7 linked regions of the Homo sapiens genome follow. The protein of the gene in region 2 purifies or fractionates together with the protein of the main gene of each other region. This does not show direct contact. Each region holds a gene or a part of one and is shown on either strand. Other genes may lie near its edges.

Region 1 (3,500 bases), on a different chromosome or scaffold from region 2:
TCTCAGAAGTCTGCAAGGTTGCACAATAGGATAGTCATCCTTTGAAATGAATGAATTCCACAGAACTGCCACTCTTGTATGAAATATGCACAATCACCCAGCAGTGAATATTTTCATTCCTTTTGCTCAACTTCAGTACAGCATTTTAATATTTTTCAAAGGCTGGAGATGCTTTTAAGTATAGGGACTCTGCAGCCAAATTCTGCAGGGGCATCTGGCTGTTACTTCTTTGTTTAAAATCAGAGGTGACTCTGGCCTCTGCTCATTCTTTCTCCAGATTTTGCAAGACATATTTCACTTTGGGCTGACCTTACAGTGTCATTTGCAGACTTGTGCTCTGGCCTCAAATTGGACTTAATCTGCTGGTTTAGTTATTGCAAAGATTGAATCAGCCCCTCACCAATTACAGTGTGGCTGCAAGTGGATTTAAGTGCAGTATCATTGTTCTGCTTGACAGAGGTCATCCCTTTAAGACACAGCAGCTTCTGTTTTCCTGACTTTTTACCATAGATGATGTGGGTGACTTCTTATGCAAGCATAGTTGTGTATCTCCGAAGAAGCTCCAAGAGAGTTTTATAAGGCTGCTTCTCTGAACTGCCCTGAGAGATATATATGCTGTGGTCTCTTAGCTTACTTTAAGGCTCAGTGAAATCTACACATTGAATCTAGTTCCTTTTGATGTCTTAGAATAGAAGGCTCATGTTTCCTAGCTGTGTGTTGACCAATGAAAAAATTCTTTGCAAAAACAGATCAAATGTAAAGATGCTATTTATTATAGGGGACTGCGTAGAGAATTCCATAGGACACTATTTGGAGGAATAGAGATTCCAGAGTCATTTAAACAAAATAATCAAGGCTGCTTATTGTCTCCATGTACCTACTTTTGCTAGATGAATGAAGGCACTTTAAGGAGTCTTTAACTGTATGTTTTCATGGAGATACTGGTAGCTACTGTGCAGATTGACATAATTACTATCTTGGCAGAATGGGTACTTTTTTTTTGCAAATGTTATTAATGATGGCCTAATCTTACTGCCTTATCTGAACTGTCACATTACATAACCAAGGCTCCAAATTAAACATGTAAAGAAGCTGGCACCAGGCTTGTGGCTTGATTTTGCACGTGAAGATGATGGTTTAAATACCAGTCCAAGCCCCTAAATGCCCCTGATAGCTACTAATAAAAGTTTGGCTCCTTCTCGTGTGGGAAAACATAAGTACTTATTTTATTTTTCATACTCTGTCCACCATCTTGGAATTTGGTCTCTTCTACAAAAGGTATGGCTACATTTGAAGCTGCCACAAATATGTTAGTTTTTTAAAAATTCTGTCTCCAGTTTTTCAGCAGTGGAGCAGGATAATAGGCTAAAAGTGCTGAGCAAAAGTCACCTTTTATGTTTTTGTAAATGCACCTGGAAACAGGAAGTAGATTATAAATAATCATAACTCTGTGAGCACTGGCGACAGAAGCTGCAACCTGGTATTTCAGAACACAGCATCTTCATTATATGATGCAGTGTTTACGTTAGCCACTGCAAAGCTTATTACTCCTCGAAATTTTTGAGGCTTCCCTGGGTTTCTGTTGCCTGCATTCAGGGTGTTAAAGTTGATTCAAGCATTTCAGATTCCTAATTGAACAGGCCTCTTAGGTCACTGCTCTTGGGTCATCATTTGACAGTATCAGTGTGTGATTTGTGGTCTCTGGAGATGTTGAAGTATTCTTTCTTAAATTCTAGGTTATAGTGGCAGCAGCTGTGCCGCTTTTCTGAGATGCCTCGTTATGGTTCATTCACAACATTACTGTTAACTTTGCTTCCTTGGCCGTGTTAGCAGCAACTCTTGAGGTTTTACATCCCTGTTTGACTCACAGATTTTGTTTCAATTTTTTGAAGCTTAGAGCAACTTAACTCATGGATTCTTAAATAGCAGTCTGTGGCTTTGGATGGGCTTCAGAAAGCCCGTGAATCCCCTTAAAATGAATCCGGTATCGTGCATGCATTTGAGAACGGGCATTGTCAGCTAAGAGGGAACAGAGCTTTTATCAGATTTTATGTGACATCAGGACCCAAAAAAGGTTAACACTGTTCTAAATCAACATCTTCATTTTATGAAGAGGAGGGAGGTCCAGTAACCCTAAGCTCTTTATCCATCTCATCCAGATTATTGGTGGCAGGGCCAGGATTAGTGCCTCAAGGTTGCCGACTTCCAGTCCAGCATATTTCCTACCACACTGCAAAATGATGATGAAAGAAAGTATGTCTAACTAGTGAAAAAGCGATTTAGGCAGCTAAATCATTGTGAACTGATAGCATGCAGTGTATTGTTAGGGCGTTCCTGCCTCAGATGCTTTCCAGCGAAGCTCACCCACGCATGCCCCTGGCTCACGCACACACTGAATAGATTCATCTTACCCACATCCCAGGCAGATAGAAAAACCACATTCCAGACCCAGGGACTTGTATTCCTGATTTAGTGGAGGTCTTGAAATGAATGAAAGCGCCTTTTATATAACCTCAAAAATTCTCTGTAGTGTTAATTGCTGTTAGGTCTGTTTCAAAAGGTATTGATGGTGCCTTTTCTTTTTAAGCAACCGCACAATGAGTTGGCATTTTGCAGGCTAATTTTGATTCATAGAAAATCATTGCATAACTGGTTCATTGAGTTAGATATCTGTGGAGGGAAGAGAGGAAGAAGCAAGGCTGCTTCCCTATTCAGAAGGATTCTATCATATTCCTACCTCTGCCACTGGGGGCTTGAGTTTTGGCTCATTCTCTGAGCCTCAGTTTCCATATCTGTAAAATGAAAGTATTGAATTAGAGACCACTGGGCAAAAGCTAGCTGTTTATTCTCTTAGTTGCTCATGTGTTGTATAATGCCTGTTTATGTGCATTTCTTTTTTTTTATTTTTGAAGGCAAATAAAGTGTTGTTGATGTCATTGAGGTGGATCACTTTCTCTCCAATTTTGCCTTAGTTCTATAAACACGCAATTGGGCTAGAGACAAAAGTAATGAAAATTATTATTTCTGTACTGCATTACGTTTTGCAAAGCACTATCACCTTCATTTTCTCATATAATCCTCCTAACACTGTGAGTCAAGTATCAGTTTCCCATGTTGTACGTAAAGATTTGGAGGCTCCGAGAGGTTAAGTGACTTGTTTAGTGCCACACAGCTGGTAGGAGGCAGGGCCAATGTGGTCTGGGTCCAAGTTCAGCATATTTTCTGTCATCTCAAAAGCCCATACCTGTGGGAGGTGCAGCATTATGTGTTTTGGTTGTACAAGAGGCACCTCTGACTTTGGTCTTACTGTTAATCCTGTCGTAGGTGTTTGATATCAGCTGCTACCAGGAATCCCTGGCACCGTGCTTTTGCCTGTCTGCTCATAGTAACATCAACCAAATCACTGAAATTATCCTGGGTGAGACCAAAGCCTATGTGTTCTTTGAGCGAAGCTATGGGGACATGCATTCCTTCGTCCGCACCTGCAAGAAGCTGAGAGA
Region 2 (3,500 bases):
TAGTAGAGATGGGGTTTCACCATAGTGGTTGGCCAGGCTGGTCTCGAACCCCTGACCTCAGGTGATCTGCCCACCTTGGCCTCCCAAAGTACTAGGATTACAGGCATGAGCAACTGCGCCCAGCCACTGAGTCTTAAAAGCAGGTATATGGGCAGGTATATGGTAGTCTCCATCCATATCTTGTGTTTTGTTTGTTTGTTTGTTTGTTTGTTTTGAGATGGACTCTCACTCTGTCGCACAGGCTGGAGTGCAGTGGCGCAATCTCGGCTCACTGCAACTTCTGCCTCCGGGGTTCAAGCAATTTTCCTGCCTCAGCCTCCTAAGTAACTGGGACTACAGGCCCGCTCCACCATGGCCGGCTAATTTTTGTATTTTTAGTACAGACGGGGTTTCACCATTTTGGCCAGGATGGTCTCGATCTCCTGATCTTATGATCTGCCCGCCTCGTCCTCCCAAAGTGCTGTGATTTCAGACGTGAGCCACCGTGCCCGGACTCTCCATCTGTATCTTTTTTTTTTTTTTTTTTTTTTTGAGGCAGAGTCTCGCTCTGTCGCCCAGGCTGGAGTGCAGTGGTGCAATCTCGGCTCACTGCAAGCTCGGCCTCCCGGGTTCACGCCATTCTCCTGCCTCAGCCTCCCGAGTAGCTGGGACTACAGGCGCCCACCACCACGCCCGGCTAATTTTTTGTATTTTAATTAGAGACAGGCTTTCACTGTGTTAGCCAGGATGGTCTCGATCTCCTGACCTCGTGATCTGCCCACCTCGGCCTCCCAAAGTGTTGGGATTACAGGCGTGAGCCACCGCGCCTGGCCTCTGTCTGTATCATAAAGCTCCTAGGCCTGGCTCGGTGGCTCAAGCCTGTAATCCCAGTGCTTTGGAAGGCCAAGGGGAAAAAATCATTTGAGCCCAGGAGTTCGAGACCAGCCTGGGCAACATAGCAAGACCCCACCTCTACAAAAAATAAAAAAATTAGCCCGGCATGGTGGCATGTGCCTGTAGTCTCAGCTCCTTGGGAGGCTGAGGCAGGAGGATGGCTTGAGCCTGGGAATTGGAGATTGCAGTGAGCTATGATCATAGCACTGCACTCTAGCCTGGGTAACAGAGACCCTGTCTCTTAAAAAAAACAGTAAGACTGGGTGCAGTGGCTCACTCTTGTAACCCTAGCACTTTGGGAGACCAAGGCGGGAGGATCACTTGAGCCCAGGAGTTCGAGACCAGCCTCAGCAACATGACGAAACCCTGTTTCTACTAAAAATACAAAAAACTAGCCGGGTGTGAATGGTGTGCACTTATACTCCCAGTTGCTTGGGAGGCTGAGGAAGGAGGACGACCTGGGCCCAAGAAGTTGAGGCTACAGTAAGCCGAGATCATGCCATTGCACTCCAGCTTGGGTGACGGGAGTGAGACCCTGCCTCTAAATAAATAAATAAAAATAAATTAAAAAAATAATAAAACTTAAAAAGCTCCCATAAGAAGGAGTTCAAGAAAATTGAAGGCTTTGGAGTGTTTATTGGGTCCCTGATTTATTTATGAAGCAACAACATTCTGCCGGGACTGAGGATACAGCCATGAACAGGATGTGACTCCTGTCCTCAGCAGCTCACAGCCTTGTGGTCTTAAAAGGTCTTGTAGACCCCCTAAGAGTTTCATGGGTTGTCCTGGACACCTGGGTGCAAACTAACTCTTGGGCCTCGACCTCCCGAGTAGCTGGGATTACAGGCACGTCCCACGACACCCGGCTAATTTTTGTATTTTTAGTAGAGAGGGGGTTTCACCATCTTGGCCTGGCTGGTCTGAAACTTCTGACCTCAGGTGATCTGCCCACCTTAGCCTCCCAAAGTGCTGGGATTACAGGCATGAGCCACCGTGCCTGGCCTTTCTTGATCTCTTTTAAACTTCACCATGACCCTGTGAAGTGAAGCAGTGTTTCCATATTTTACAGACGGAGGAAACCGAGGCTTGGTGTTGCACAGCTAGTAAGTGGCAAGGCTGGACTTTTTCACTTGAGCCCAGTGCAGGGTTCCCACTGATGGGCTGGAGGAGCTTTGGGGAAGGGAGGGAGGCAGGGATGTTTCTGATGGCAACAGCCTGGGCATGGTGTGTTCTGGGACCGAGGGGAAGGGCAGCAGACTGGCCAGGTCAGAGTACAGAGTATGGGTGAGTAGTGTAGAAGCAGCGGGGATGGAGCATGGATGAGAACCTCGGGCTGATTAGGTTAGAGAAGGATGAGTGCCTTAGTGCTTTTTTGGGTTTGGGAGAATCCCGTGTGGACTTTCCCACGTTGACTGTGTAGATGTTAAGTGACCCTGAGGTATGTGAGTGACTTCAGGGCAGTGTGAAATGAAAGTTCTCAGTGGCCGGTTTGAGGCTGGAGCTGGGCAGGCAGGTGTAGAGGGATTGGGGGTACTTGACTTTGGCCTGGGCAGGAGGGATAGGTACCTGGCAGGGTTCTAGACTTGAAGGGCATGCCCCATGCCTCCAAGTGTCTGGTTGGGACGCCAGCGTCAGTCTCAGCAGATTCTGTGGGTGCTGTGGTGGTAGGTGTGGCGGCTCTTGCCTTAGCATCCAAGGCTGGTGCCCAAATTTTGTTCCTTGGCCATTGGCTGCTCAGTGACCTTATTCCTAAATCTAGGGCAGCCCCTGTTTGGACCCAGGAGGCTGGCTTGCAAGAAGCAAGAGAGCCTTGGTGTGGCTGGGCATGGTGGCTCATGCCTATAATCCCAGCACTTTGGGAGGCCGAGGCGGATGGATCATTTGAGGTCAACAGTTCGAGACCAGCCTGACCAACATGGTGAAACCCCATCTCTACTAAAAATACAAAAATTAGCCGGGCGTGGTGGTGGGTCCCTGTAATCCCAGCTACTCGGGAGGCTGAGGCATGAGAATTGCTTGAACTCGGGAGGTAGAAATTGCAGTGAGCTGAGATTGTGCTACTGCACTCTAGCCTGGGCAACAGAGCGAGACTCCATCTCAACCCCCCCTCCGCCCCCCATAATTAGCCAGGCTTGGTGGATCACGCCTGTAATCCCAGTTATTTGGGAGGCTGAGGCATGAAAATCGCTTGAACCCGGGAGGTAGAGATTGCAGTGAGCCAAGATTGTGCCACTGCACTCCAGCCTGGGCAATAGAGCGAGACTCAGTCAAAAGAAAAAAGAGAACCTCGGTGTTGGTGGACTTGGGTCACCTTTGATTTTCACCTGGAGGAGTCTGAAGTGGCCAGAGAGAGGATAGTGGACCTTTACTGTGTGTGTAGGACGTTTACAGACCTTAACCGTAAATGCAAAACCCCAGAAAGAGCTATCAGAAACTTTCAGGCATTTGCAGAAAAATCCACTTTATTCAGTGCAGTATCACCTGGAAATTTCAATCAACCATCCTTCATCAACAGGAACCCCTGGTTGGTCAGCCATCAGAAGCCCTGGTTGGTCAGCATTCCACCAATAAGAATTCCTGGTTAGCGGCACTCCACCAATCACAACCCCTGGTTAGCTCCTATTCCA
Region 3 (3,500 bases), on a different chromosome or scaffold from region 2:
CTTAGGAACAATATTCTTCTCACTACTGTATAAAAATAACCACAATGAATAAGTATTTGTGTAATATTTACTCCATTGTCTCATTTCCAGAAACTGTGACAAGCTGTAAAGGTATTTCAGTGTTGGTAAGGATATCTTGATTGCTGGTGGCGGAAGTATTAACAGTTCCTATCCCTGAAACAGAACCTTGTTGAATATTTGCAAGGATAAGCGTTGTTCCTCCTGCAGTAATCAAAGTATCATCTCGCGCAGCTTCCACAGATGCCAGCACTGTACTGCTAGAGTGAATACCTTTTTTATTCTGGTGTGTTTTAATATGTTTGGCAAGGTGGTCACTTCTCATAAAGCGTTTTGAACATTCTGGACAAACAAATTTCTTCTCACCTGTTAAGAAAAAAATTAAGTTACTTGGTTTTAAAAATTCAACTTTAATAGCTCAATCATCTCCCCCAAAACAGAAAGTAAGTCAACGCTGACAGGTGAGGATGGGAGCAGGGGTCTATTAAAATTGTATTCATTTTACGAGCTACCCCTGCCAGATTTCTCTTACAGAATATTTCTCCTTAAATCTTTCATCTTTACTTTTTGATGACTAGCAGTCTTCAAACATGTATTATATAATAGATGGATATTCAAATAAGACTTTAATATCTCAACTACGCTAAGAGTTTGTTTGAAATACCTGTGTTAAGATGCCAGCTAAAAAATAAGCATCTATAACACACTTTAAAGTCTAAATAAAAGTATATTCTTTCACGCTATAATTAAAATACTAACATGCCATGTTCATGATACTAAACCTTCAACTCTTAAATATGAATTAAAGCAACAGGGTACTTCTAGATTAAAGAAATGACACCACAAGCTTGAGATCCAAAAAGAATGAGTAATCCTTAGAAAAATGAATCTGGCTAGCTGACTTGACTTCAGCTACAACAATCAAGAACAAGCCTAATATGTTAAGATGTTAAAGCTGTTAAAATCCTGATGCCTAAATTTATTTCCCAGCATGAATAAAGTAAGTTTAAATACAAAAGACAGACTGAACTTCTATTATGTTGAAGACCGACTCTGCAAGATTACCAAAAGAGAAGACAAAAGGCCAACCTAAAAGGAATTCAGAGAGAAATCAATAAAAATCAATCAATAAATCTAGTAAATATTTTCTTAATTCCTTTCTTCAAAAATGTCTTAGCTTGTATCCTTTGTTCTAGCACCTCTACTCTACATAGGTCTTTATCAGACCTCATGCTTGAACTATACTGCAGTCACATCCTAGTCTCTCTCTCTCTCCAGACTATCTTCCTTAAAGACCAAATTTTATTACATCAGAAAACTTCAAGATTATATTAAGTGATATGGAAATGCAAGGGTAACTTGCAGATGACGTAACAGTTTAGATGCTCCACTGCCTAATTTACAAGGACCTTTAAAGTGTGCCTCAATCCTACTTAACAGAAATGTTATGTAAAATCTCATCCTCATTCACCGCTACAAAAAAAGGTCTCTCACTTCTTCTATTAACATACCACCATTTTTCTACTAAAGTATTTCCCAGTTTCTCTTGTAACATTAGTCCTGAGAGGTACTCCATGGCAAACGGCACAAGGTTAGGAAATGCTACACACACATTACATCACTAACTTATAGATGCAAGCTGTCAATCTAGCATTTAATTTAAAGGTCCTAAGAGGTACTGCCTTGAAGGTACTTATACCCTCTTTGGCCCACTATTTCCTACACTTATTTGATCATTGACCTTTTTCTCCCTTTTACATTATTCCTTTTTACAACCTGCTGATAAAATCCTACTGAGGAAAATTCTGTTAACAGGGCCATCATAAGATCTATTATCCCATACTTTACTATCCCAAGCAGTAATTATCTCTGTTTCTGAGCCTTTTCAACAGCAGACTGCAACGCAAAATCTTTTATCTACCTTTTTTTTTTTTTTTTTTTTTTTGAGACAGGATCTCACTTTGTCACCCAGGCTGCAGTACAGTGGCATGACCTTGGCTCACTGCAACCGCCGCCCCATGGGCTCAAGCAATCCTCCCACCTCAGCCTCCTGAGCAGCTGGGACTACAGGTACACACCATCCGCCCGGCTATTCTTTGTCTTTCTAGGAGAGACACGGTTTCACCATGTTGCCCAGGCTGGTCTCAAACTCCTGAGGCTCAAGCAATCTGCCTTCCTTGGCCTCCCAAAGTGCCGGGATTACAGGCATGGGCCAGCACGCCCTGCAGCCTTATCTACTTTCTTAATTGTCTGTTGCAGTTTCATGTAGGTTAATCTCATCTGTCTACCTACCCAATGAGAGACAGGAACTAAAACTATTAGAGCATCTGTATACTACTACAGACTTCATAGGTAATTTTATACAATACTGAAGGCCAAAGTAGGATATGTGAAGCAACGTCAGAGATAGTTTATTCGCTTAACCTAATAGGGAACTTGGATTGGAATCCAGATGACTTCAAAATCCATGTTGTTCTCCATTTTACCATGCTTCTTCCAAGCTCTCTAGGGATTGTAAATACATAGTTTTCAATTCTCCAGTGTTGAGCATAGACTGATGAACACTTTAATCATTTACATGGTAGTAGGAAAAAACTATCTCTAAGTTAACACTGTTAGGTTTCAGTGTAGATCAGTCACAGGTCCATTTCATTTAACAACCACACAACACTATGTAAAAATAATATAATCAGAGAAAGTCTTCACATCAACATTGCCTTGGTTATTCCTCAGTGAAATACCTTTCCCTTACCTCAGAGATACTAAAAACAAAAGAAAAGGTGAAATGCCCAAATATGTCAGAAGAAACAGGAGTATTTTTTGTTACAGTGTTAAGAGGAAAGAAAAAAAATAGGATAGATCAAGAGTAAAAGCTGACAACTAATTAAAAATGTTAACAGAATAAAAATAGTATAAATGTGGTTTAAAGCATTCAATAATGTCAACAAAAGCCACCCAAAGTCTACTTAAATATAACTTTATTTTAGAAGATAAGCCAGACTGACTTGTTCTTTGGAATTTGTGTTATTAAGATGGTGTTACTAAAGGTAAAAATTGGATGTAATTCATTGTATTTTAAATCGATTCAGTTCAGTAAGGAATGCTAATAAAAAAGAAGTCAAGGCAGTTATGTAGCCCTATAATTCATTTTTGTCTGTTAAAAGTAAGTATTAGTAACCTGTATGTGTTCTTCTGTGCCTCTGTAATTCATCACTTCGAGTAAATCTTTTACCACAGTACATCCAGTTACAAACAAAAGGGCGTTCTCCAGAATGCCAACGCAGATGAGCTCTCAGATGTGAGGTCTTCCCATAGACTTTACCACATCCTGGTATATGACAAATGTGTTGCTTCTTTTTCCCAAGATTGGTACCTCTAAAAAACACACATAGAATAATATATACTTATATGAAAATATTCAAATGGACATTACCATTTACATCATATATCCCCATGTTGAATTTTAAATAGAAGACATTATC
Region 4 (2,312 bases), on a different chromosome or scaffold from region 2:
AACTGCAGCCCGTGCCGGCTTCTCGCCCTGCAGGACGGGGAGGTTTACTGCATCGACGCGCGGTTCTACGGGAACGTCAGCCGGTTCATCAACCACCACTGCGAGCCCAACCTGGTGCCCGTGCGCGTGTTCATGGCCCACCAGGACCTGCGGTTCCCCCGGATCGCCTTCTTCAGCACCCGCCTGATCGAGGCCGGCGAGCAGCTCGGGTACGCACCGCCCCGGCCCCTGGCCATCTCCGCTGCCGGCGGGACGGTTTTAGGAACGGGGCTCGCATTGCTTTCCTGGGCTTGTCTCGGGTTTATGCTAGTGGTTTTCCTGTAGTTCTAAAAACTGCGACCTGGGATGCGGCACGGCAGATCGGGGTGAGGAAGCTTTGGCCTTGCCTTAATTTATCTGGCTTGTGGGAGGTGCCGGTGGGATTCGACTTGGAGCCTTGGTTCTGTTCCCTCCCCAGGTTTGACTATGGAGAGCGCTTCTGGGACATCAAAGGCAAGCTCTTCAGCTGCCGCTGCGGCTCCCCCAAGTGCCGGCACTCGAGCGCGGCCCTGGCCCAGCGTCAGGCCAGCGCGGCCCAGGAGGCCCAGGAGGACGGCTTGCCCGACACCAGCTCCGCGGCTGCCGCCGACCCCCTATGAGACGCCGCCGGCCAGCGGGGCGCTCGGGAGCCAGGGACCGCCGCGTCGCCGATTAGAGGACGAGGAGGAGAGATTCCGCACGCAACCGAAAGGGTCCTTCGGGGCTGCGCCGCCGGCTTCCTGGAGGGGTCGGAGGTGAGGCTGCAGCCCCTGCGGGCGGGTGTGGATGCCTCCCAGCCACCTTCCCAGACCTGCGGCCTCACCGCGGGCCCAGTGCCCAGGCTGGAGCGCACACTTTGGTCCGCGCGCCAGAGACGCTGGGAGTCCGCACTGGCATCACCTTCTGAGTTTCTGATGCTGATTTGTCGTTGCGAAGTTTCTCGTTTCTTCCTCTGACCTCCGAGGTCCCCGCTGCACCACGGGGTTGCTCTGTTCTCCTGTCCGGCCCAGACTCTTCTGTGTGGCGCCGCCGAAGCCACCGTTAGCGCGAGCTGCTCCGTTCGCCCTGCCCACGGCCTGCGTGGCTGGGGCCGAGTCCCAGGGGCCGCACGGAGGGCACAGTCTCCTGTCAGGCTCGGAGAGGTCAGGAGACCGACCCCACCACTAACTTTGGAGAAAATGTGGGTTTGCTTTTTAAAGGAATCCTATATCTAGTCCTATATATCAAACCTCTAACTGACGTTTCTTTTCGAGGAAGTGGCTTGGTGGGTGCAGCCCCCGCCGGTTCCGTTGACGCTGGCACCTTCTGTTGATTTTTTAAGCCACATGCTATGATGAATAAACTGATTTATTTTCTACCATTACTGAACATTAGGACAAACACAAAATAAAAAACAAAACACAGACAACGGTGCTGATTCTGGTGTGGTTTCTACTCACCACGTGAAATAAACTATCAACTGTATAAAGAGAACAAAGTGATTTTAGAATAAAATGCAGGAAAAACTTTTTTAAAGATGTTAGTCTTGTAGCGTGAATAAATTTGCCATCACCTTTTGTGTGGTGGCCTGGCAGGTCATATACTTTTTTTTGGCATATACCTTTTTAAAGACTGTAATTAGTGCAGTAACAGTGGGGTTTTTTTTGTGCAACTCTTCTAAAAACATTCATAATGCAGTCATGTTTATTTTTTTCTGTTAAAATGTTTTTGACAGTTTTAAGAGCAGTCTTTTGGCTCTGACCATTTCTTGTTCTGTTTCCAATGAAATCAATAAAAAAAAAGAAGTACTTTAAATGGGGTTTTTATTATGACACCATATTTCAGGGTCTCTGCAGAACTTGCAGGTCCCCCTGGACCCGGCCCAGCTCTCTGTCCCCTGTCCAAGGAAGTACAGCTTCCTTTTCACCCCAGATCTGTCCCCGAAGAGGGGACGTTCCAGGCAGAGGTTAGGGGAGCCTGTGCATTTGCGCACGTGTCGAATGAGTCTGTGTGTGTCCACGAATGCATCGTGCACGTGGTGCGAATGCGGGCACACTGGTGTGTGTGTGTGTGTGTGTGTGTTTGCATGTCTGTGTCTAGCGCCAGGTGCCCAGCTCTGGGCGTCATTCTGGAAGCCGACAGGGCACATCAGGTGAGTCCCACAACCAGAGGCAGAGCTGCACTTGAACAGCGAGGCCGGACAAGGGAGAGCCAGAGCCCGTCCTACTTCCTGCCAGCCATGACCCCCACTCCTCTACGGGGACCCCTAGACCCAAAGCCTCCAGCCTGCTATGTTCTCCATGCTGACTGGCCTC
Region 5 (3,996 bases), on a different chromosome or scaffold from region 2:
GCAGAAGGCACTGTCCTGGCCAGAGCTCTCAGAGGCCCAGCTGCATGCTCTGGTGTCCAGCTCTGGGCTCAGGGCGGGGTGGGACCACAGTCTGGGTGGCTGGGGCTGCAAGACTCCGAGGTGAAAGGTCACTCCTGGAAGGGCTTGTCCAGCCGGTTAAAGGTTAACCTGCCCAGAGCCAGAGGCTCGCCAGCCCGGGCCTCGCATACAAAGGGTGCTTAATAAATGCTGGTCGGGCGGGCCCCAGCCCCGGTACTGGGGGATGGGGTGAGTTGGAGGTGGCGGCAGCTGCGAGGCTCCAGGGCGCCTGGAAGAGACATCTGCAGTCCAGCCGGCCGCCAGGCCAAGCCCTTTCTGCAAAGCACAGAAAGAAAAGGAAATTAAAAGGGAAAAAGGGGCAGGCCCCCAGACAGGGCATGCCTGTCGCCTCCAGCCGCGCGGGGCGGGTGGGCGCCCTGCCCCCGGAGGCCAGAAATTCTGCAGAGGGGCCCCCTGACCTCGCGGCCCCGGCCAGCCGGTCTCAGACCACAACATCCCTTCCCCCTGGAGATTCCGGGCACCAGGTGTTAACCCGAGCAGAGAAAGGGTGGGGTGGGGGTCAGACGCGGCGACTTTCTGGAAGAGGAAGCAAACACAATCTAGGGTGTGTGTGTGTGTGTGTGTGTGTGTGTGTGTGTGTGTGTCTGTCTGTCTCGCGCGCGCGTGTGTCTTGCGCAGGGGCGTACCCCCCCCCCGGGTGCCACTGGCCCCCCATCATTGCTTTGCCAGGAACTGTGGGGTGGGGAGAGGTTCCGAGGGGCGCCTCGAGGGTGATCGAGCGACCCAACGTCCAAGGCCAGAGGTGGAGGGGAGGGCCTTGGAGAGACATCTTGGCGAGGCTCAAGGAAGGGCAGAGGGCAGGCGCGGCTGAGGCTCCCGCCGCGGCCCGGCAGGGGTTAAGGCCCGAGCTGGGCGAGGGCGAGGGCGGGGGTGCGGGGGGAGGGGCAGAGGGAGGCGGGGGAGGGTCAGGCCCCGCGGCCCAGCGCTCGGCCCCCGTCCCTCCCGCCGGCCCGTTCGCCCGGCGCCGCGCGCGGCCACCCATGCCCTTATAAGGGCGGCCGTCGCCGGGGCAACGAGCGCCCGCCCCCAGCCCGCGGCGCGCGCCCCTGCCCCCGCCCCCGCCCCCCGCCCGCCCCGCGAATGGAACGCTGTGTGTCAAACCGGCCGCAGCGCGAGGCCGGCGCGCGGGGTCGGTGGCGGTGGCGGCGGCGAGAGCGAGGCTTGGGCCCAGGCGCAGGCCCAGGCCAGGCAGGAGCGGCCGCAGCGGGGGCGGCAGCTCCAGAGGCGCCGGCCCAGCGGCCCTGCAGGCCCGGAGCGGCAGCCGCGGGCGCCGGGGGACCCAGGGGGCGCGGCGATCAGCCCCGGCGCGCACCCGCCGCCCCTCCCCCCCCGCCACGGGCGGCCGCGCAACTTGCGGCCAAACTTTCCCCCCGGCCTCCCGCGCTCGGATGGCGGCCCGCTGAGTTGGCCGCAGCCCCCGGGCGAGCGGCGGCCAGGCCAGAGGACGCCCCCTGCGCGGCTCGGGCCGGGCCATGGCCCGCGCGCCCCCGCCGGGGCCCCAGGGCGGCGGGACGCGAGTCCTCTGGGCCCCCGGCCCGCGCCTCTAGCGTGCCCCTCCCGGCCCCGGGCCCGGCCCCGCGCACGCGTGGGAAAGTTGGCCTGGAACCGGCCCGACCAGTTCCGCCCGGGCGCGAGGACCGGCCGCAGGAAGTTGCTGCAAAACTTTTTTGGGGGGTGCAGCCCGTGCCCCCCGCGCGCCGGGGCCGAATGCGCGCCGCGTAGGGTCCCCCGGGCCGAGAGGGGTGCCCGGAGGGAAGAGCGCGGTGGGGGCGCCCCGGCCCCGCTGCCCTGGGGCTATGGCCATGGTGACCGGCGGCTGGGGCGGCCCCGGCGGCGACACGAACGGCGTGGACAAGGCGGGCGGCTACCCGCGCGCGGCCGAGGACGACTCGGCCTCGCCCCCCGGTGCCGCCAGCGACGCCGAGCCGGGCGACGAGGAGCGGCCGGGGCTGCAGGTGGACTGCGTGGTGTGCGGGGACAAGTCGAGCGGCAAGCATTACGGTGTCTTCACCTGCGAGGGCTGCAAGAGCTTTTTCAAGCGAAGCATCCGCCGCAACCTCAGCTACACCTGCCGGTGAGCCCCCCATCCGCGCGCCGCCGCCGTGCACCCCGCCCCGACCTGGGGCAGGCCTCTGACCTGCTCGGTCACCTTGGGCCTGGCGCTGACCTTCCCTGGGCCTCCACTGCCCCCTCTGAGATAGGGGCACAGCACCCTCCTCCCGCATTCCATGGCTGGGATTGTGTATACAGTCGGCGCTACATCGTTGCAGGTTCCCCCCCCATCAGGTGGTCCCTGGAGGCTTTTGCCCCAGTTACTTGCTTCTCCTTCCCTCCGCTTTTTCTCTGGGGAGGGGTCATCTCCGCGCTGGGGTGGGGGTAGGGGTGCTGTCAGGGGTGGTAACCCAACCCCAGGGCACCCGTTCTCGGGGATCCCGGCGCGCGGGATGCCCTCGAGGGAATCGAACGTGGAACTTGGACCGTGGAGCTCGCAGCGTCCAGGGGCCATTGTCTGCGGCCGCGCGGATCGATACGGCGCGCCCTTGGGGTCAAATATCACTTCCAAAGTCGCTGTGGCTACGGAGGCGGCAGACGGAGGGAGGCTGGGGTGGCACGGGGCGGCCTTCTTCGCATGAGGGGCCCAGCGGTGGGGGTGGGGGTGGGAGCTGGGCTTGCCCATCTCAGGGAACCCCTCTGGGCTCACTCTGGGCCTTGGGTCACCGGAAATCGCCACTGGAAGGCCGGCAGGGCCACCGGAATTGACTGAAACGTCCCTCTCCCCCAGGGGTGGGTGCAGACCTGGGGCTCCTGGAAAAATCCCTCAAACTTTGGGTGTCTCTGAGACGGGCAGGGAGTGAAACGTTTCCGAGCAGGAGCCTTGGGCTGTCCCAGGTCGGAGACCTCTCTGGCAGGGCGTGGCCTTGCTAGCTGTTCTGGCGGAAGGTCCCCAGGGAAAGCGATCGGGGTTGTCCAGCCCGGGAGTTCTTTTCTCACCGTTCCCGGGCGAGCATCCGATCTGTCCGTTTATAAGCCCCTACTCTGCACCCCAGGAACATGCAGGGTCTCTGTGGAGCCCGTCTAGACGGTCTCAGTTCCCAGCTGCCCAAAACAGAGGCCCAAAGGCCCAGAGAGAGGTCCTGGTGCCTGCTTTGCGTTGGACATGGAGGGACGCTGCCCGAGTTGGGGGCACTGTGGGGGAACTGTGGGGCTAGGGTGGGGACCGCTGAGTTCGGATCGGAGTGGCCCCAGGGAGAACGGCTGATGGAAGGCTTGTTGGCTGAGGCCACCAAATAGGGCCCCAGGTACCCGAGGGTGGAGTTTGGCCCCAGGTCCCGGGTCAGGGCTGGCCTGGTGTGGCCATGTGTGGCAGAGCTGCCTTGCTCCCTCCTCCAGCACAAAGTGGGCCACTAGACTTTGGCCTCATTCTTGCTGCTGGAAAACCGCCTGCTCTCTGGTCATATCTTTAGGGAGGGTAAGGGAGGGGGGCTCAGGCAGTTTTGGGGTCCCAGGAGCTTCCTGAGGGTGGTGTCAGGGAGCAGCAATTTTGGGTGGGGGGGGCCTTGCTTGGAGCTGACAGGTTTGTGCTGTGTCAGTTGTGTGACCTGGTGAAATCACCATTCCATTCTGAGCTTCAAATGGATTGAGCAGGGTCTCGCTGGGGCCCAGCCTGGGTAGTTTGATGCCAGCCCCTCCAGAGAGACCCCAGCTCCAAGTCTAGCTCCTGAGAAGCCCCCAGTCTGGAGGAGACACAGTGAGACAGATGCCCCAAGTCTGTGGGATCTGGGGTCCCAGGGAGAGAGCAGAGGCTCTGCCTGGAGGTCAGAGAGGGCTGCCTGGAGGAGGCTAGGGGACATGAGCCTTGAAGCATGGAGTTGGCAGGTGGAAGAAAGGCCACAGGGA
Region 6 (3,500 bases), on a different chromosome or scaffold from region 2:
GGAGATTTATTAACATTGCAGTGCACAAGTTAATAAGTGACAGAGCACAGTCTATATTCTGGCTGAGTCCCAAACTCATATTCCTTCCACTGCACATGCTGCCTCTAGAAAAGAAGCATAAAAGAAAAAAAAATAGAGCAATGTGGTAAAATCAAAGAAGTAAGATGTGTTGCCTTGTACACTTTCCTCTAGGAGAGGTTTAGAAGAAAGAAGAGAAGGACTACCAGAAGAGATGAGAGAGCCTTAGCAGCATCCAGAGAGGAGAAGAGGGCATGTCATGGAAAGCTTTGATGGAAGATTTTTTGAGGATGAGACCAAGGACATGTTACAATGTTTTGGATCACATCAGCAGAGGAATCAAAGATGACCCTGAATTTTTGAGTTGAGGGGTCTCATTGGATTGTATGGCCAATAGCAAGGATAGAGAATGAATAAAGAGGAGCATTCCATTTAGATCGCTTTCAAAATAGGATGTACTCCCATCAATCTAAAATGGATAAAGTTGGTTCTGCCTGCTGAAAGGACAGTGGAATGAAACTTACAGAAGTTCTTCTCAAACATTCTCACGACATTCTCATGACAACCTCAAAGCCCAGTCATTAACTAAATTGAAAAGTACAAAAGGAGAAATGGAAATGGTTTTGGGTGAAGAATGTGGGTTTAAGGTTTTAAGAATGCTGTCTGTGAGGTGTTCCAGTGGAGGGATACAGGGTGGAAACATCCATCAACAGTCATGTAGAATCTCAGGCTCATGATTAGATTACTAAGATTACAGCTTGGCACTTAGAGCTCAGGTCTAGAAGTGAGGACGTGTGGATGAGATGTGTAGAGGTGATGGTTGAACCTATCATAATGGTCACAGACACAACCAATGAGGAGAAGAAAAGAAAGGGAGACATATGGCCAGGCGCGGTCACTCATGCCTGTAATCCTAGCACTTTGGGAGGCTGAGGTGGGTGGATCACAAGGTCAGGAGCTCGAAACCAGCCTGGCTAATAGGGTGAAACCCCATCTCTATTAAAAATACAAAAATTAGCTGGGCATGGTGGCATGCGCCTGTAGTCCCAGCTGCTCGGGAGGCTGAGGGAGGAGAATTGCTTGAACCCCGGAGGCAGAGGTTGCAGTAAGCCGAGATTGCGCCACTGCACTCCAGCCTGGGTGACAGAGAGAGACTCCATCTAAAAAAAAAAAAAAAAAAAAAAAAGAGAAAGGGGGAGACAGGTAAGAAATAGTCAAAGGTTTGGGAGGGGAAATCTAAGGTCATGTAGGCCAATAATTAGAAACAATGTTTGAACAGAAACATGACCAAAAATGATATGCTAAACAAGGGGTGGATTATTCATGCCTCCCCATTTTAGACCATGTAGGGTAACTTCCTGATGTTGTCATGGCATTTGTAAGCTGTCATGGCACTGGTGGGATTGTAGCAGTGAAGACGACCAGAGGTCACTCTCGTTGCCATCTTGGTTTTGGTGAGTTTTAGCTGGCTTTTTTACTGGAACGCATTTTATCAGCACAAATAAATGTCAAATATGCTTTTACATAGGCTAGGTTTTATTTGACATGCAAGAGTAGATGAGACTGGGAAGCCAGGTAGGGTTGCATATGTGGTGGAAGTCCTTGATTGCAAGGCAAGGCCTTTATTTGCTAGTATAGTTGGCATATACTGCAAATTGAATCTAACCAAAACAGCAGTGGGTGTGATACAAGGCACACACTGAAGCAGAATAACACTTCACTGGGTTATATTAAGCAAATAAAAAAGAGAATATCTGATTTGTGTGTATGTAAGCGCTCCTGCCCAAAGGAATGAAAACAACAATTATTTTAACACTTGGACATAGACTGAATATAATAGAGTCATTAGGAGGGAAAGAGCTGCATCAAGGGCTAATGGTCATGGTAATTATTTTATTTATTTAAAAATAAATATTTTCAAGATACAAAATGTGCTAGTTTCTGCAATGCCAAGAGTTTACCACCCTGTATGCCAATATGCCTTGCATCCTGATCTTGTAACCCAACTATTGTAGGCTGCATTGGAAACTTGGCATAGAAATATCATACATAATTATTGATAAAAAAAGGAGATTGTATGCAAAGTGCCTGGTCCACAGTAATTGAGCAGTAAATACTTTCTCCTATTTTCCACAGTGAAAGGTAGGCAAGAAAAATTAAAATGCTCTGAGGTGTGAAGCAAGTTATTTCTTATTTTTGTGTATGTTAAAGACTCACTCAATTGAAGATACAAATTACATGTGAAGAGGGGAACATAAAGATATGATGATGATGAAGGCCAGTAAGAAATGAGCTACTCCTGGCTTTCACTTTAAGAGCCACTACTAGAAACTAAATTGCATTCTAATCGATTACATATATTAACTCATTTAGTTTGTACAACAACTCTCTATTATGATTCCCATTTTATATATGAAGAAATAGAGGCACTAAAAAGAATAAGTAATGGGCCCAAGTTCATACAGCTGGTATATGCCAGAGATTTCAACCTAGGCAGCCTGGCCCTAGAGCTACAGTTCTTAATTGCTGTGCAGTATCATTTCTCTGTAAATAAAGTCACTGTGCTGCTGGAGGAACATGTGAGAAAGAGATCAAAGAAGCTGAAGCAAATTAACAAAATGAAATACAAAGCTAAATGAATAATAGAGAGTTGGACCATATGAAATTGCCACTTCTGTAGATCAAATTCAATAGCATGTTGGCAATTTTGTGTGATTTCGCATAGAAAAAGGAGACATGGGAGTATTTAAAAGCATGTATTGAACATGTGCAGAGTGCCAATCACTAGACACAGATGATTCAAAGCTGAATAAGATGGCTCCTGTCCACAAAAATGCCCTGGCTAAGTAGGAGAGATGAATGCATAAACAAGAATTACAATAGAATGGTATATTTTCAGTAATACAAATATGTGGATCGATGGTTTGCAACCTTGACTGAGCATTGGAATCGTGTTATAATTTTGTAAAAATTGACCATTTTATAATTGAGATATCCCATCAGAGATAGCCTGATCAGTCTCCTGAGGTGGGTTTTTTAAAAGTGACAGGTCATAACCTCTGAAAATAAATGTGTTGGAAATGATAGCAGAAACTTCAAATGCTACAGTATACTTATAAAAAAGGAAGTTTTTGTCCATGAAATAAAAGCTGGTAGATTGCATAGCATCTTGACTTTTTTAAGGTCCCTGACCTCACTGAGAAACTGATTAAAGTTGTGGATGTTTTTGCAGAAAGTTGCCCACATGCATAGTGAGTGGAGGTCCATAAAGCCAAGACTAAACAGTTAAGAATTCCTGCATCAGAGACTATGGTTGAAAAGAATAAATAAACTTTTAACACAGGAAGTGTAAGAATAGGACAAATGTAGATACAGCGTCTACTCCATAAACAAGGTAGGAAAGAAGATTCATGGCAACACGTGAAATGATTCACAACAAAATATTTAGAGTGAGTTGGATAAAGTGACAGCAAAGACAGAGT
Region 7 (2,250 bases), on a different chromosome or scaffold from region 2:
TGACCAAAGTTGGCCAACTTTCCAATTAACTATGTATAACAGTAATACTTTTGTCAACTGAGAATAAGTTCTTTTTAATTCCTCTAGACAATATTGGGGTAACCCTTGGTAATTTTGCAGGTATAGTAAAGAAAACCCAATTTTCTGACAGAGGGCACACTAACCCTACAAACAGCAGGGATAAGCAAAAAAGGAGGAAAGCTTATGGCTGCAAGCACAGCAAACACAAGATAGTTAAGATCTGACAATTTAAGGGCAGGTTGCCACACAGAAAAACATGTCAACTGGCTGGTCTTGGTTGATACTCCTAAATGTGCTTTGAGGGCAGACGGTGTTGTTAACTTCAAAAACAGAAGTATTTCCATGTTATCTTGGGTAATAGTTATCTTGTTTGTATTTATTAGGTTTCCATTAGTGCTCTGTTATAAAATATTTAAAACACAGATTTACAATAAAATCATTATATTATTATTAGCAAAGTGGGAACAAATAATGTGTAGAAAATTTTGTGAGGAACAAACATAAAATTTGATTCATATGGCCTGTTTGCAAAAGTAGGCTTATTTCAGGGGGAGTATGAAAATAAGCAAGGCAGACTATTATGAGAAATAGCCTCTAATGAAGATCTCCATCTCTTTAGAATAACCTTGAAAAGTAACAAGAGGAAGTCATGAAATGCCGCATTATACAGTAGCAAAATCTATTTTTTAATACAAAGGAGAAGAGGAAAAAAAAGAACACCTCTAGTCCCAGTGATGACCACTGATGACTGTAAGTCCTAGACACAGAGACCCTAATAATACTACTGCGATTCTGAAAAGCATTCCTGACTTGTTTAACAGTTTGGAAAAGTGTCCGAAGTTTAAGTACTAACGCACTATGAAATGGAGATACACAGGAAAGACTGAAAAGTAGAACTATCACAATATAAGGAAATTAAAGATCACAAGTAGCTACTTTCAAGCAAGTGGTACTTTGAGAGTCTATGAGAAAAATAAAATTTAATATCACATTATTCAAAGGCAGTCTGATTAAAATCCTGAGAGTCCCTGCCTGAATCCTCTGCTGGGATGTAAAGTCTTCTAAAGCAGGCCTGCACAGGGCTTTACTTCTCAGTTCTATGGGGACACAGGATAGGTTGCCAGAGTGAGTGAGAAGAGGATGTAAAAGACAATTTAACCTTTCCTCCCCAGACTCCTAATATACAATTCATATTCTAGTGTAGCAATATGATTAAGAGCTCTGAATAAAGAATGAAGACTAAAGGAAACCAAGAAAGAAGAATTCAACATTAATATTCAAAGCTATTTTTAATTAGAGTTTGATCACCCATTCAGCTCTATAAACCTGAACATTGTGTCATATAATCTAAAACTCTCAGAATTGAACACTGGGATGATTTTATCATTAACAACCCAAAGACATTCCATGATACTAACTACAGCTTTGCACCAGTGAAAGCATCTGTAGATAGTTTTTGAATACAGAGTTCACATTTTACGATAGATGAACACACAAAGTATCTCTATTTTATGCTTCTGTTAATTTTCCCTAGAAGAACAAACACACATTCAACAAAAACCCTTATGCCTTATTTCTTTGGGTCTTAACATTTGTTATCTGAGAATGGAAAAGACAGGGACATGTGAAAAAAAAAAGGAGTATGTTTATCTGCATAGTTGATATTTAGAGGCTACTAAGGCCTTATCTGGAAAAAGCAACAAAAATCCAAAAAGTGACTTACAGACACACACACACACACACACACACACACACACACCCTATCATTAGAGATTCAGTGGACCTTAGCCAATTCTGGAAATTAACCAGATGCTTTGTCTGCTTGGACCTGGTGCTTTCTACTAACTCACTTGAACCTGGTAACACTGGTTCCTCATCCCCAACATTTTGCTTTCCTGACCCTGAATATGTGCTACAATTTAAATTTACACACACACTCCAACAATCGTTGCTCAGCATTTAGCCCCAACTAAAACTGCAGCATCCATTTTTCTTTTCCTGTTGCTATTATTTTAAACGATAACGGGAAAATTCTATGTAGTAGTACTACTTAATATACAGGGATGGAAGGTGGGATAAAATGATCTTCGTCTCCTCCTGGGAGCTGGGGAAAACATGTTTCCTTCTACCCTGACCTTCCCCACCCCGACCCAGTTAGAAAGTGAATCCTGCCTTCCGTCTCCCATTTTCTTACAACCTGAGCAGCTGATGGCTCCACCTCTTTCATGG

What was found.
Region 1: the proteins of TFAP4 (region 2) and TRIB2 purify together in Homo sapiens (affinity purification with mass spectrometry; 2 studies listed by BioGRID and IntAct, with this or other methods). This does not show direct contact.
Region 3: the proteins of TFAP4 (region 2) and SP3 purify together in Homo sapiens (affinity purification with mass spectrometry, with the first as the bait; one large-scale study listed by BioGRID). This does not show direct contact.
Region 4: the proteins of TFAP4 (region 2) and EHMT1 purify together in Homo sapiens (affinity purification with mass spectrometry, with the first as the bait; one large-scale study listed by BioGRID). This does not show direct contact.
Region 5: the proteins of TFAP4 (region 2) and NR2F6 purify together in Homo sapiens (affinity purification with mass spectrometry, with the first as the bait; one large-scale study listed by BioGRID). This does not show direct contact.
Region 6: the proteins of TFAP4 (region 2) and MTCL3 purify together in Homo sapiens (affinity purification with mass spectrometry, with the first as the bait; one large-scale study listed by BioGRID). This does not show direct contact.
Region 7: the proteins of TFAP4 (region 2) and UBN2 purify together in Homo sapiens (affinity purification with mass spectrometry; 2 studies listed by BioGRID and IntAct, with this or other methods). This does not show direct contact.

What each region holds. Positions count from the first base shown.
Region 1 is NC_000002.12:12,719,936-12,723,435, forward strand, and holds part of TRIB2 (tribbles homolog 2), read left to right. Parts: intron 1-3,324; coding exon 3,325-3,500.
Region 2 is NC_000016.10:4,266,524-4,270,023, reverse strand, and holds part of TFAP4 (transcription factor AP-4), read left to right. Parts: intron 1-1,819; exon of another isoform or gene 1,820-1,976; intron 1,977-3,093; exon of another isoform or gene 3,094-3,500.
Region 3 is NC_000002.12:173,909,874-173,913,373, forward strand, and holds part of SP3 (transcription factor Sp3), read right to left. Parts: intron 3,394-3,500; coding exon 3,197-3,393; intron 385-3,196; coding exon 68-384; 3' UTR 1-67. UniProt on the Homo sapiens protein: Transcriptional factor that can act as an activator or repressor depending on isoform and/or post-translational modifications. Binds to GT and GC boxes promoter elements. Competes with SP1 for the GC-box promoters.
Region 4 is NC_000009.12:137,834,316-137,836,627, forward strand, and holds the end of EHMT1 (histone-lysine N-methyltransferase EHMT1), read left to right. Parts: intron 1-33; coding exon 34-209; intron 210-457; coding exon 458-638; 3' UTR 639-1,812; downstream 1,813-2,312. UniProt on the Homo sapiens protein: Histone methyltransferase that specifically mono- and dimethylates 'Lys-9' of histone H3 (H3K9me1 and H3K9me2, respectively) in euchromatin.
Region 5 is NC_000019.10:17,243,120-17,247,115, reverse strand, and holds the start of NR2F6 (nuclear receptor subfamily 2 group F member 6), read left to right. Parts: upstream 1-1,196; 5' UTR 1,197-1,895; coding exon 1,896-2,173; intron 2,174-3,996. UniProt on the Homo sapiens protein: Transcription factor predominantly involved in transcriptional repression.
Region 6 is NC_000006.12:127,477,836-127,481,335, forward strand, and holds part of MTCL3 (microtubule cross-linking factor 3 precursor), read right to left. Parts: intron 1-3,500.
Region 7 is NC_000007.14:139,304,237-139,306,486, reverse strand, and holds part of UBN2 (ubinuclein-2), read right to left. Parts: 3' UTR 1-2,250.